Linked DNA regions of Homo sapiens. The gene in region 1 interacts genetically with each later gene. Each region holds a gene or a part of one and is shown in the gene's direction. Other genes may lie near its edges.

The links.
Region 2: changes in ZMAT5 (region 1) and CENATAC together harm fitness more than expected from each alone (negative genetic interaction), as found in Homo sapiens cells (one large-scale study listed by BioGRID).
Region 3: changes in ZMAT5 (region 1) and METAP2 together harm fitness more than expected from each alone (negative genetic interaction), as found in Homo sapiens cells (one large-scale study listed by BioGRID).

Annotation. Positions count from the first base shown.
Region 1 is NC_000022.11:29,746,360-29,750,009, reverse strand, and holds part of ZMAT5 (zinc finger matrin-type protein 5), read left to right. Parts: intron 1-1,438; 5' UTR 1,439-1,465; coding exon 1,466-1,592; intron 1,593-3,650.
Region 2 is NC_000011.10:119,008,122-119,011,771, forward strand, and holds part of CENATAC (centrosomal AT-AC splicing factor), read left to right. Parts: intron 1-2,642; coding exon 2,643-2,709; intron 2,710-3,099; coding exon 3,100-3,162; exon of another isoform or gene 3,163-3,190; intron 3,191-3,650. UniProt on the Homo sapiens protein: Component of the minor spliceosome that promotes splicing of a specific, rare minor intron subtype. Negative regulator of centrosome duplication.
Region 3 is NC_000012.12:95,508,636-95,512,285, forward strand, and holds part of METAP2 (methionine aminopeptidase 2), read left to right. Parts: intron 1-3,259; coding exon 3,260-3,363; intron 3,364-3,650. UniProt on the Homo sapiens protein: Cotranslationally removes the N-terminal methionine from nascent proteins. The N-terminal methionine is often cleaved when the second residue in the primary sequence is small and uncharged (Met-Ala-, Cys, Gly, Pro, Ser, Thr, or Val).

The DNA of each region.
Region 1 (3,650 bases):
TCCGTTCTCACATTGCTATAAGGAAATACCCAAGACTGGGTAATTTACAAAGGAAAGAGGTTTAAGTGACTCACAGTTCTGCATGGCTGGGAAGGCCTCAGGAAACTTACAATCATGGCAGAAGGGAAAGGGGAGGCAGGCACCTTCTTCACAAGGCAGCAGGAGAGAGAAGTGCTGAGCAAAGCACGAAGAGCCCCTTATAAAACCATCAGATCCTGTGAGAACTCTTCACTATCATGAGAACAGCATGGGGGAAACCACCCCCATGTCAGTTACCCCCACCTGGTCTCTCCCTGGACACCTGGGGATTATGGGGATTACAATTCGAGATGAGATTTGGGTGGGGATACAAAGCCTCACCATATCAAAGGGTGATACATGCTATGAGGGAAAATAAAGCAGGGAGTGGAGGAAGCTAAGTGGAAGATTCTGCCATCTTGGATAAAGTAGCATTGGAGCAAAGATGGAAGGGGTCAGGAGGGGAAGTGAGGCGGGAGTTTGCAGGAGGGCATACCCCTCCCTGGGGAGCCTTGGGTGCAAAGGCCGGGAGGTGGCCATGTGCCTGGCATGTGTGAGGAGCAAAGGGGAGGCCGGTGTGGCCTATATGATGCAAATGTGGAGGTCAGAGGTATGGTAGGGGATGGGGCGGTGGCTCGTACCTGTAATCCCAGCACTTTGGGGGGCCAAGGCGGGAGGACACTTGAGCCCAGGAGACCAGCCTCTGCAACATAGCGAGACCCCATCTCTACAAAAAAATTGTTTTTTTAAGTTAGGAATGATGACACGCACCTGTAGTCTCAGCTACTTGGGAGACTGAGGTGGGAGGATCACTTGAGCCCAGAAGGTTAAAGCTACAGTAAGCCGTGATCACACCACTGCACTCCACCCTGGGTGACAGAGCGAGACTCTGTCTCAAAAAAATAAAACCCTATGTGGTAGGAGACAAGGGAGGCCAGCCACAGGGTATAAGGTGGCAGTTCAGCCTACTTACATGTTAGAATCACCTGATAGACTTTAAAAACTACCAAACAGCAGCCAGGCACAGTGGCTCATGCCTGTAATCCCAGCACTTTGAGAGGCTGAGACAGGAAGATTGCTTGAACCCAGGAGGTGGGGGCTGCAGTGAGCTGTGTTTGCAACACTGCACTCCAGCCTGGGTGACAGAGCAACACCCTCTCAAGAAAAAACAGTGCCCAGGCCTCACCCACTGAGGTTCTACTTTAACTGGCCTAAGTTGCAGGCTGGGCATCAGAATGGTTAACAGATCCCTCTGGAATGAGGCCTCTTAGGCCATACTCATCAGCTTGACACTCCTAATGGGGCGGGGTGCATATGAGTAAAGCCTGGGCTCAGGCCTGGCCCTCAGGAAGCATTCAGTGGGCTGGTGAGGGATGTGTTTTCTCCAATGGTCTAATCTGAGCTCTTTGTGGCTTCCCAGGCAGCAAAGCACCTGCTCTGAGTGGCCATGGGGAAGCGATACTTCTGTGACTACTGCGACCGCTCCTTCCAGGACAACCTCCACAACCGCAAGAAGCACCTGAACGGGCTGCAGCACCTCAAGGCCAAGAAGGTCTGGTACGACATGTTCCGAGGTGGGTGCCGCTGGCTGGGGGCCAGGCTCCTGGAGCCCTGCTCTCTGATCTTTCTTATCATCAAAGACTCCTGTGGGTCAGTGACAGTCTAGGTCTGGGCTCTTTGAGGATCAAAAGAGAGGGAGGCCTGAGCCACTGGGCCCTCAGAGGAGCAGGCTGGTAGGTGAGCTCTTTCCCCAACAACGCTGACTGAAGGCTCTGTGGACAGGAGGAAGGCCCTAGAAGGAGGTGATGTTTGAGCCAACAGCTAAAATAGGGGAAAGCTAGCCATGCAGTTCTGGGTGGAGGGTGTGAAGAGAAGCAGGCAGCCCTGAGTCCAGCACCAGGGCTCTCGGAGCAGGAGGGAGAGGGTGTGGCTGGGCGGAGCAGGCCAGGGGAGAATGGTAGGGCTCAAGCTGGCTCTGGGGCAGGGATCTTCCAAGCCTGTGGAGGCCATCATAAGCAGGGGGCGGAGGTGGGGGGGTCCCTGTTCCAAGGGCAGAGAGCAGCCTTTGAAGGGCTTTAGCTGCCGTGGCCAGACCTGCCTTGACAGCGCAGACTGCTTCGTGGGGAGCAGTTGGGTGCGGTCAGTGGCAGTTGAATGACTGGCTGCAGGCACGGGTGAATAACCCAGTTGCAGAAGGAAGGCAGGCTCTTCTGGGAAAGGCCTCTCAGAGCAAGAACAATTGGGGTGAATGAGCTAAGGTCGGAAGTGCCTAGCACAGGGCCTGTTTCCCGGGAGGTGCCCAGAGAGGGGAGTTGTGCTGTTGCACGGCTGTCACTGGACATTCACACTGAGGAACAGCCAGGGAGGTTCCAGAGGGTGACTGGCAGGAGCCAGGTTGAGAGATATGGGCACTTGGCGGTGGGGCGAGGGTGGGCCAGGAGCTCCTGGAATGAGCCAGAGTGGGGCCGATGCCCTGTAGGTTGGTGAGCAGGATTCTGGGACAGGGCCTCCGAAGAAGGAACCAAATCCAGCAGCCAAGAAGGGAGGAGAGGTGGAGAGAGAGTTCCCTGGTTGGGGCTAGGTGTGGTGGCTTTCCCCTGTAATCCTAGCACTTTGGGACACTGAGGTGGGAAGATTGTTTGAGCCCAGAAGTTCAAGAGCAGCCTGGGCAGCATTGTGAGACCCCGCCTCAAAAAAGGCCTGAAACTGAGAGTTCACAAACAAGGAATGAGCATGGATCGCATGCCTGCTACATGCTGGTGCTTTTCATAGTTCGTCATTTGCTTTTCTCGACAACTCTCTAGGGCAGTGATTCTCAACTCCGGCTGCAGGTTAGGATCACCTGGAGACCTTTAGGCTAAAACCACTGATTCCCCAACCCCATCCCCTCCCCAGAGGCAGGTTTGGGGACTAGGCATGGTGTTTCTAAAGGCTTCCCAGACTCCGCATTTCACTTGAGGGAGCTGAGGCTCAGAGGTTCAAGTGAGGGGGTGGCCAGGCTGCTCAGCAGGCCAGGCGTGGCTGTGGTTGCAAGGCCACAGGAAAATTCATGGGCAGTGGGGTCTCCTAGCTCCCTAGGAGACTCTAACCCTGGTGTTACGCTAAGGCTCCCTGCTGTGCAAATCCAGTGTGGGCTGTGATCTAGAGGGAGCTGGGCCGAGATCACCTAGTCCCAGATTCTCAGCTGTCAACAGCTGGATGCTGGGATCCAGGGCTGATTGGCAGAGGTCCCTGTGTCACTTATAGAAAAGATGAAGCAGCAGGTGACAGGAGTGCCCCAGGGCTCCTGTGTTCTCAGTGTCCTCACATCCCCAACACATTCAGTCCTTAGAACAGTTCTGTAAGAGGCTGGGCAGGCCAAGCCAGGCATTCCCAGTTACAGGTGGTGACTTCAAAATCCAGAGCAGGCAGGGCATGGTGGCTCACACCTGTAATCCCAGCACTTTGGGAGGCTGAGGTGGGAGGATCGCTTGAGTCCAGGAGTTCAAGACCAGCCTGGGCAACATAGTGAAACCCCATCTCTACTAAAAATAAAAAAATTTGGCCAGACTCCGTGGCTCATGCCTGTAATCCCAGCACTTTGGGAGGTTTGAGGTGGGTGGATCACCTGAGGTCAGGAGTTCAGGACCAGC
Region 2 (3,650 bases), on another chromosome or scaffold:
CCACACCTGTGGGTATTTCTAGTCGGGTGGGATGAGAGACGGAGAAAAGAAATAAGACACAGAGACAAAGTATAAAGAAACAACGGTGGGTCCAGGGGACTGGTGCTCAGCACACCAAGGACCTGCACCGGCACCGGCCTCTGAGTTCCCTCAGTTTTTATTGATTATTATTTTTCATTATTTCAGCAAAAAGGAATGTAGTAGGACAGCAGGGTGATAATAAGGAGAAGGTCAACAAATTACATGTGAGCAAAAGAATGTATATCACGATTAAGTTCAAGGGAAAGTACTATGCCTGGACGTGCACGTAGGCCAGACTTATGTTTCTCTCCACCCAAACATCTCAGTGGAGTAAAGACTACAAGGCAGTATCACTGTAAACATGTCTCGCCTCCCGCCACAGGGCAGCTTTTCTCCCATCTCAGAGTTGAACAAATGTACAATCGGGTTTTAAGCCGAGACATTCAGTTCCCAGGGGCAAGCAGGAGATAGTGGCCTTCCTCCATCTCACCTGCAAGAGGCTTTCCTCTTTTACTAATCCACCTCAGCACAGACCCTTTACAGGTGTCGGGCTGGGAGACAGTCAGGTCTTTCTCATCCCACGAGGCCATATTTCAGACTATCACATGGAGAGAAACCTTGGACAATACCCCGCTTTCAAGGGCAGAGGTCCCTGCGGCTTTCCACAGTGCATTGTGCCCCTGGTTTATTGAGACTAGAGAATGGCAATGACCTTTACCAGATGTACTGCTTGTAAGTATTTTGTTAACAAGGCACGTCCTACACAGCCCTAGGTCCCTTAAACCTTGATTTTATACAACACATGTTTTTGTGAGCTCCAAGTTGGGTCAAAGTGGCTGGGTCAAAGTGGCTGGGACAAAGCTACAAATCAACAACATCTCAGCAAAGCAACTGTTTAAAGTACAGGTCTTTTTCAAAATGGAGTCTCTTATGTCTTTCCTTCCTACATAGACACAGTGACAGTCTGATCTTTCTTTCTTTTCCCTACAACTTATTATTATTTTTGAGACAGAGTCTTGCTCTGTCACTGGCCTGGAGTGCAGTGGCCCGATCTCGGCTCACTGCAACCTCCACCTCCGAGGTTCAAGCAATTCTCGTCTCAGCCTCCCAAGTAGCTGGGATTACAGGCACCTGCCACCACATCTGGCTAATTTTTTGTGTTTTTGTAGAGACAGGGTTTCACTATGTTGGCCAGGCTGGTCTTGAACTCCTGGCCTCTTGATCCACCCGTCTCGGCCTCCCAAAGTGCTGGGATTACAGGCGTGGGCCACACCGCGCCTGGCTTAAATGATTTTTTAAAACTAAGTGGCTTAATATTCTGCAATTTTAATCTGAGAGGGGTGGAACAGAAAGCCCCATACCTCATCAGAACCTGGGAGTTGATGAGAAACCATTTGATGACAACCTCCTAGGGGAGATGGGGAGGGAAGTGGGAGATGGCCTCATAGCAGCTTCTGGCAGACCTTCCACCCTCGTGTTCCAGGAGGATTAAACAAGCCTTTCAGCCACAATTCGGTAAGGTGTGGCTCAAGCCATTGTCTCCTTGGATATATTCAAGGCTCTCAGGGAACACTGTTGATAGTGGTATTGGTATTATACTGAAACTTTGTGTTGAGAACCAGGGTTTTGAGAACCAGGGTTTTCACTATGGCAAAAGGAAGATACAAGTAAGGAATGGAGGCATTTGAATAGGGAGGTGACAGTACAAATTACTGATTTAAGGCCAGGCATAGTGGCTGATGCCTGTAATCCCAGTTCTTTGGGAGGCCAAGGCAGGAGAATTGCTTGAGCCCAGGAGTTCGAGACCAGCATGGGTGACATGGCAAAACCCTGTTTCTACAAAAAACACAAAAATTAGCCAGGCATAGTGGTGCTGTCCTGTAGTCCTACCTACTCAGGAAGCTAAGGCAGGAGGATCTCTTGAGCCTGGGAGCCTCTTGAGCAGAGGTTGCAGCGAGCTGAGGTTGTGCCACTGCACTCCAGCCTAGGCAACAGAGCGAGCCCGTCTCAAAAAAAAGACAAAGAAATTTAGGACAGTATGCAAGATTTGGCCTGGATTCTTCTGAGGATGTGAAGTAATGGAAACAGTAAGACTGTTCCAGACTAGGGGAAGACTAGAGACCTAATAGCTGGATTCCATGTGATCTTTTGTTGGACTTTGGGATTGGAGGTGAGAGTAGAGAAGGCATAATGCACGTTTTTGAGACGAGGGAAATGTGAATATAGCCTGTATGCCTACACTCAAGTCTGAAGACATGTAAACCATGTCTATACTAACCAGCCAAATATTTGAACACTAAAAGGAAGAATTTTCTTAATGTGGTAATGGTATCATGGTTGTATAGAATGTTCCTCCTCTTGGGAGATGTGTGTTGAAAATAGGGTTTGACGTCTAAACCTATTTTGTTTTGGCAAAAAGGACGTGTGTCTGTACAAAAGAAGTGGAGCCAGTATGGCAAAATGTTTACAAGGACTCTGGGTGAGAGGTACATAGGTGCTTACTATACTGTTTTGTTTCTGAATTTGGAATTTCTCAAAATTAAAAAAATATCTACTGAGGAGCTTTTCGTTTTAACTGGTGGGGAATGGGTTCTGGGTGGTTTTGCCCCTTTTCTTTTTAGATTCAAGAAATCCATGGTGAAAGGTTTGGATTCCTATGAAGAAAAGGAGGATAAAGTGATCAAGGAGGTAAGTTAAAGTAGCAGTCCCTCACCCTTTTTGCACCAGGGGCTGGTTTCGTGGAAGACGGTTTTTCCACAGATGGACCCAGGCAGGGGATGGTTTCAGAATGAGACTGCTCCACCTCAGATCATCAGGCACTAGATTCTCATAAGGAGCACGCAACCTAGATACCTTGCATGCCCAGTTCACAATAGTGTTTGTGCTCCTATGAGAATGTAACACCACCACTGATCTGACAGGAGCTCAGGCGGCAGTGCTGTTGCAGCCTGCTTCCTGACAGGCCACAGACCAGTACTGGTCCACGCCTGGGGGTGGAGGGCCCAAGTTAAAGGAAAGGCCTCTGAAGAAACTGGCCCCCATGATCCTGTACCTGTCTAAGCAGCCTCTCTCCCACAGATGGCAGCTCAGATCCGTGAGGTGGAGCAGAGCCGACAGGAGGTGGTTCGGTCTGTCTTAGAGGTTGGTTTCCCTCGGAGGATCCAGACCAGTATCCAAATCCACTGATCCCTGGCATTCCCAGGTCCAGCATTTCATGGACTAGTGCTTCTTCTTCTTCTTTTTTTTTTGGAGACAGAGTTTCGCTGTGTCACCCAGGCTGGAGTGCAGTGGCACGATCTCGGCTCACTGCAACCTCCACCTCCCAGGTTCAGGTTCAAGCGATTCTCCTGCCTCAGGCTCCCGAGTAGCTGGGATTACAGGTGCCGCCACCACGCCTGGCTAATTTTTATATTTTTAATAGAGGTGGTGTTTCACCATGTTGGCCAGGCTGGTCTTGAACTCCTGACCTCAGGTGATCCACCCGCCTCAGCCTGCTGGAATTACAAGCATGAGCCACTGTGCCCGGCCATGAACCAGTGCTTCTAAGAGAACTCTGACTGCATTCTCATCTGCTTGGCTTGAATTCCCTTACCTGTGTGCCAGGGGGCAGGCCTAGTCAGTGAATATGT
Region 3 (3,650 bases), on another chromosome or scaffold:
CATATACCAATGTCTTCTCTTTTTCCTTTCATTTTCTCCTAATTCTACAACTTGTTTGGTATGTGGTCTGCCTTTCAAGGTATGGTAGGTGACAGTTTGACTTAATGTTTTAGTCACTGCATAATAATTCCAGCCTGCAACATCGGGATTTTTAATATCTACCCTTTTACCTCTTCCATTAAGCTAGTGCAGCATTTTTGGTTTCATTATTTCAGTACCCCTCTTTTGATCCCTGTTATTTTATTGATCAGTGTTCTTAGTTTAAGGCAACAATCCATTTTTATAGTTTAAGCAGAGAGGATGTGGAAAAATCATGATAATAGGGAGATGAAGAAATGGATTCCGGGTTGAACTTTCCAGAACAAATCAAAACACATAGCACAAACGGGCCATCAAAGGAGTATCTTAATCTCCTTTGATCAGGAAGCAATAGAATTAAAAAGTGATTGTTAACAAATTACTGGTCCCAGAATTAGCCTGTGCTGTTACAACCTGCATAAGTAAAAAATGAATTCCCCTGTACCCTCATTTTTCTGTGTAACTAACATATTAGGTTGGTATGGCTAAGAAACTTTCTTTAAAAAAATTGATTGGCTTGTAAGGGTCAGTCTGCAAAGTTTGAATTTTAAAATAAGCTTGTTACTTGTCAACCTAAATAACAAACAGAGGCTCTCTAAAAGAAAATGATGTTTGGGAATAGAGCATTGCAGTGGGAATGCCATAGTAAACTTGTGCATATTCAGGGAGGTAAGGAAGACAGAGGTTTTTGAAGACGAAAATGAGGATGACATAATTGTTTTGAAATAATTATCCTTGGCTCCAAAGATTAATAACAAAAGTGACGCCAGTCGGAGGTTGGGCAGGCAGTTGTTGGGCAGATGTCCTTGCAGAAGTATTTTTTTGTGTAAGGTTGCAGTGGGCTTTGTGCAAGGTTATGGTTTTCATAGTCATTTTCATTATCAGGTGTATAAGCATGAGAACCCTCTCTTCATGGCTTTCCCTAGCTCTGTTTGAGTCTGACAACTTTGACACATTTATATAAGAAGGTTGTTGTGAAGAGTGAATTGATTTGTTTTTCTTGCTGTCCCACTAAGTTTGTAACATACTTGTTCATTGCTTCAGACTACTTAACTCTGCTCTAGAAGAAAGGTAGCTCATACTGAGGATTCTAGAGTTATAGAGTTAAATTTTTTTAAGACCTCCCCCCCAACCTTTTTTTTTTTTTTTTTTTGAGACTCTGTCGCCCAGACTGGAGTACAGTGGTGCAGTTTCATTTCACTGCAGTCTCTGCCTCCCGGGTTCAAGTGACTCTCCTGCCTCAGCCTCCCAAATAGCTGGGACTACAGGTGTGTCACCACGCCCAGCTAATTTTTATATTTTTAGTAGAGATGGGGTTTCACTGTGTTGGCCAGACTGGTCTTGAACTCCTGACCTCAAGTCATCCACCTGCCTTGGCCTCCCAGAGTGTTGGGATTACAGGCGTGAGCCACTGCACCTGGCCGTTTTTAGCCCTTTTTTAAAATTTGAAATATTAACACAAAATGCACAAAGCATAAAAACTCAGCTTCTCAATTGCAGAAGCTACGTAACCTCACTCCTCAAGAAATTGAATATTGCCAGTATTCCAGAAGACGCTCAGTCTCATTTTCTTAGTCCGTTTTGTGCTGCTACAGCAGAATACCTGAGACTAGGTAATTTATAAAGAACAGAAATTGATTTCTCACAGTGTTGGAGGCTGGGAAGATTGAGGGACTGGCATCTGGTGAAGGTCTTCTTGCTGCATCATCCTATGGCATTAGGCAGAAGGGCAATGAGAAGTTTGAGAGAGAGAGCAAGAAATGGTCAAACTTGTCCTTTACAGGGAACCCACTCCTGAGATAATGGCTTGAATTCATTGATGAGAGTGGTGCCTCCATGGCCCAAACTCCTCCTGTTAGGTCCCACCTCCCAACACCATCACACTGGGGATGAAATTCCCAATACATGACCTTTGGGGGATACATTCAAACCATAGCAGCAATACACTGCTTTCCAATTACAGCAGCCTGCCTCTAGTGAGCCACCATCTTGGCTTGTGGGGTCAGTTTGCCAGGTCTTAGAGAAATAGTAATGATGTCTGAATTTTAAAATATATTTAGCTTATCAGCACTGCAAGTATGAAAGGATTTTCATTTGCTTTTCTTTATGTCTTTACTACCTAATTATGCATCCCTAAACTAGTTTTATTGCCTAATTTTGAACTATTATATATATGTGGAATTGTACAGTATATATGTAATTGTGCCTTTTTCTGCTCATTTTGTCAGTTTTAAAACAACTGGAATAAAAAAGCTAGACGTTTTATTCCAGTTGTTAAATGTATTCCTAGCTTTTTGTTTTGATTGTTGAATGTTATTCCCTCGTGAATATGCCACAATTTGTCTATTCTGTCCTTGCTGTCATGACAGTGGGATGTTTAGATTTTCTTTCTTCTTTCTTACTTCTATTTCTTAATTACTGTGTCTCAGCCACATAGGTTTTCTTTTTGAACATTTGAAATGTTGATATAAAGTTTTATAATACTGTCATATTAACAGTATCTTTCACATTATCTTTTGGTCTGTAACAATACAAATATGTATTTTTTATGTTTCTAATAATTTGTGTACATGGCATTTTATTTGTTGTTAACAGTACCTCCTTATACCTCCTTAGATGACCTCCCTTGTGCCCTTAATCCTGTATTTCTTTCTTCCATCCTCCCTTCTAGCACCGTTTTTTTTTTTTTTTTTTTTTTTTGAGACGGAGTTGCTTTCGCCCAGGCTGAAGTGCAGTGATGTGATCTTGGCTCACGGCAACCTCCGCTTCCCGGGTTCAAGTGATTCTCCTGCCTCAGCCTCCTGAGTAGCTGGAATTACAGGCCCCCACCACCACACCCAGCGAATTTTTGTATTTGTAGTAGAGACAGGGTTTCGCCATGTTGGTCAGGCTGGTCTCGAACTCCTGACCTCAGGTGATCCGCTTGCCTCGGCCTCCCAGAGTGCTGGGATTACAGGCATGAGCCACTGCACCTGGCCTACTTCTAGTATTAATAACACTGCAACTACTTTTTATATTCCACTAGATTCCAGTTTATATTAAACTACCTTAATGTAAGGTTATTTAGTAAAGCCATACCTGGTTTTTGAATAAATGCTTGAACTCTGTACCAAAATGTAAGAGATCTGTTTTTGCTTCTTGAGATCCTGAATGACTTTTATTTCCCTATTTTTTATAACAGTGAAACCAATCCGTAATCTAAATGGACATTCAATTGGGCAATATAGAATACATGCTGGAAAAACAGTGCCGATTGTGAAAGGAGGGGAGGCAACAAGAATGGAGGTATGTGTGTCACTAACATTTTACTTCCATGGAAGACATTTTTTTCTTCCAAGCAGAAGGTCATGGTAGTTAAATATATGGTTATACTGACCAGAATTAGCTGCTTATCATCCATATTCACCCTGCCAGGAATTGGGCCATTTGAATTTGCAAATTGTGTATAGTCAGCACTAAATCAGTTGTGGAAATTGGGGCTGTGAAAGGGTTGTTTATTCAACATTTAATGAATATTTATTGAGCATTCTCAGGTGCCAGTCTCTTTATAGTAGGCTCTAGGGGTAGAGCTG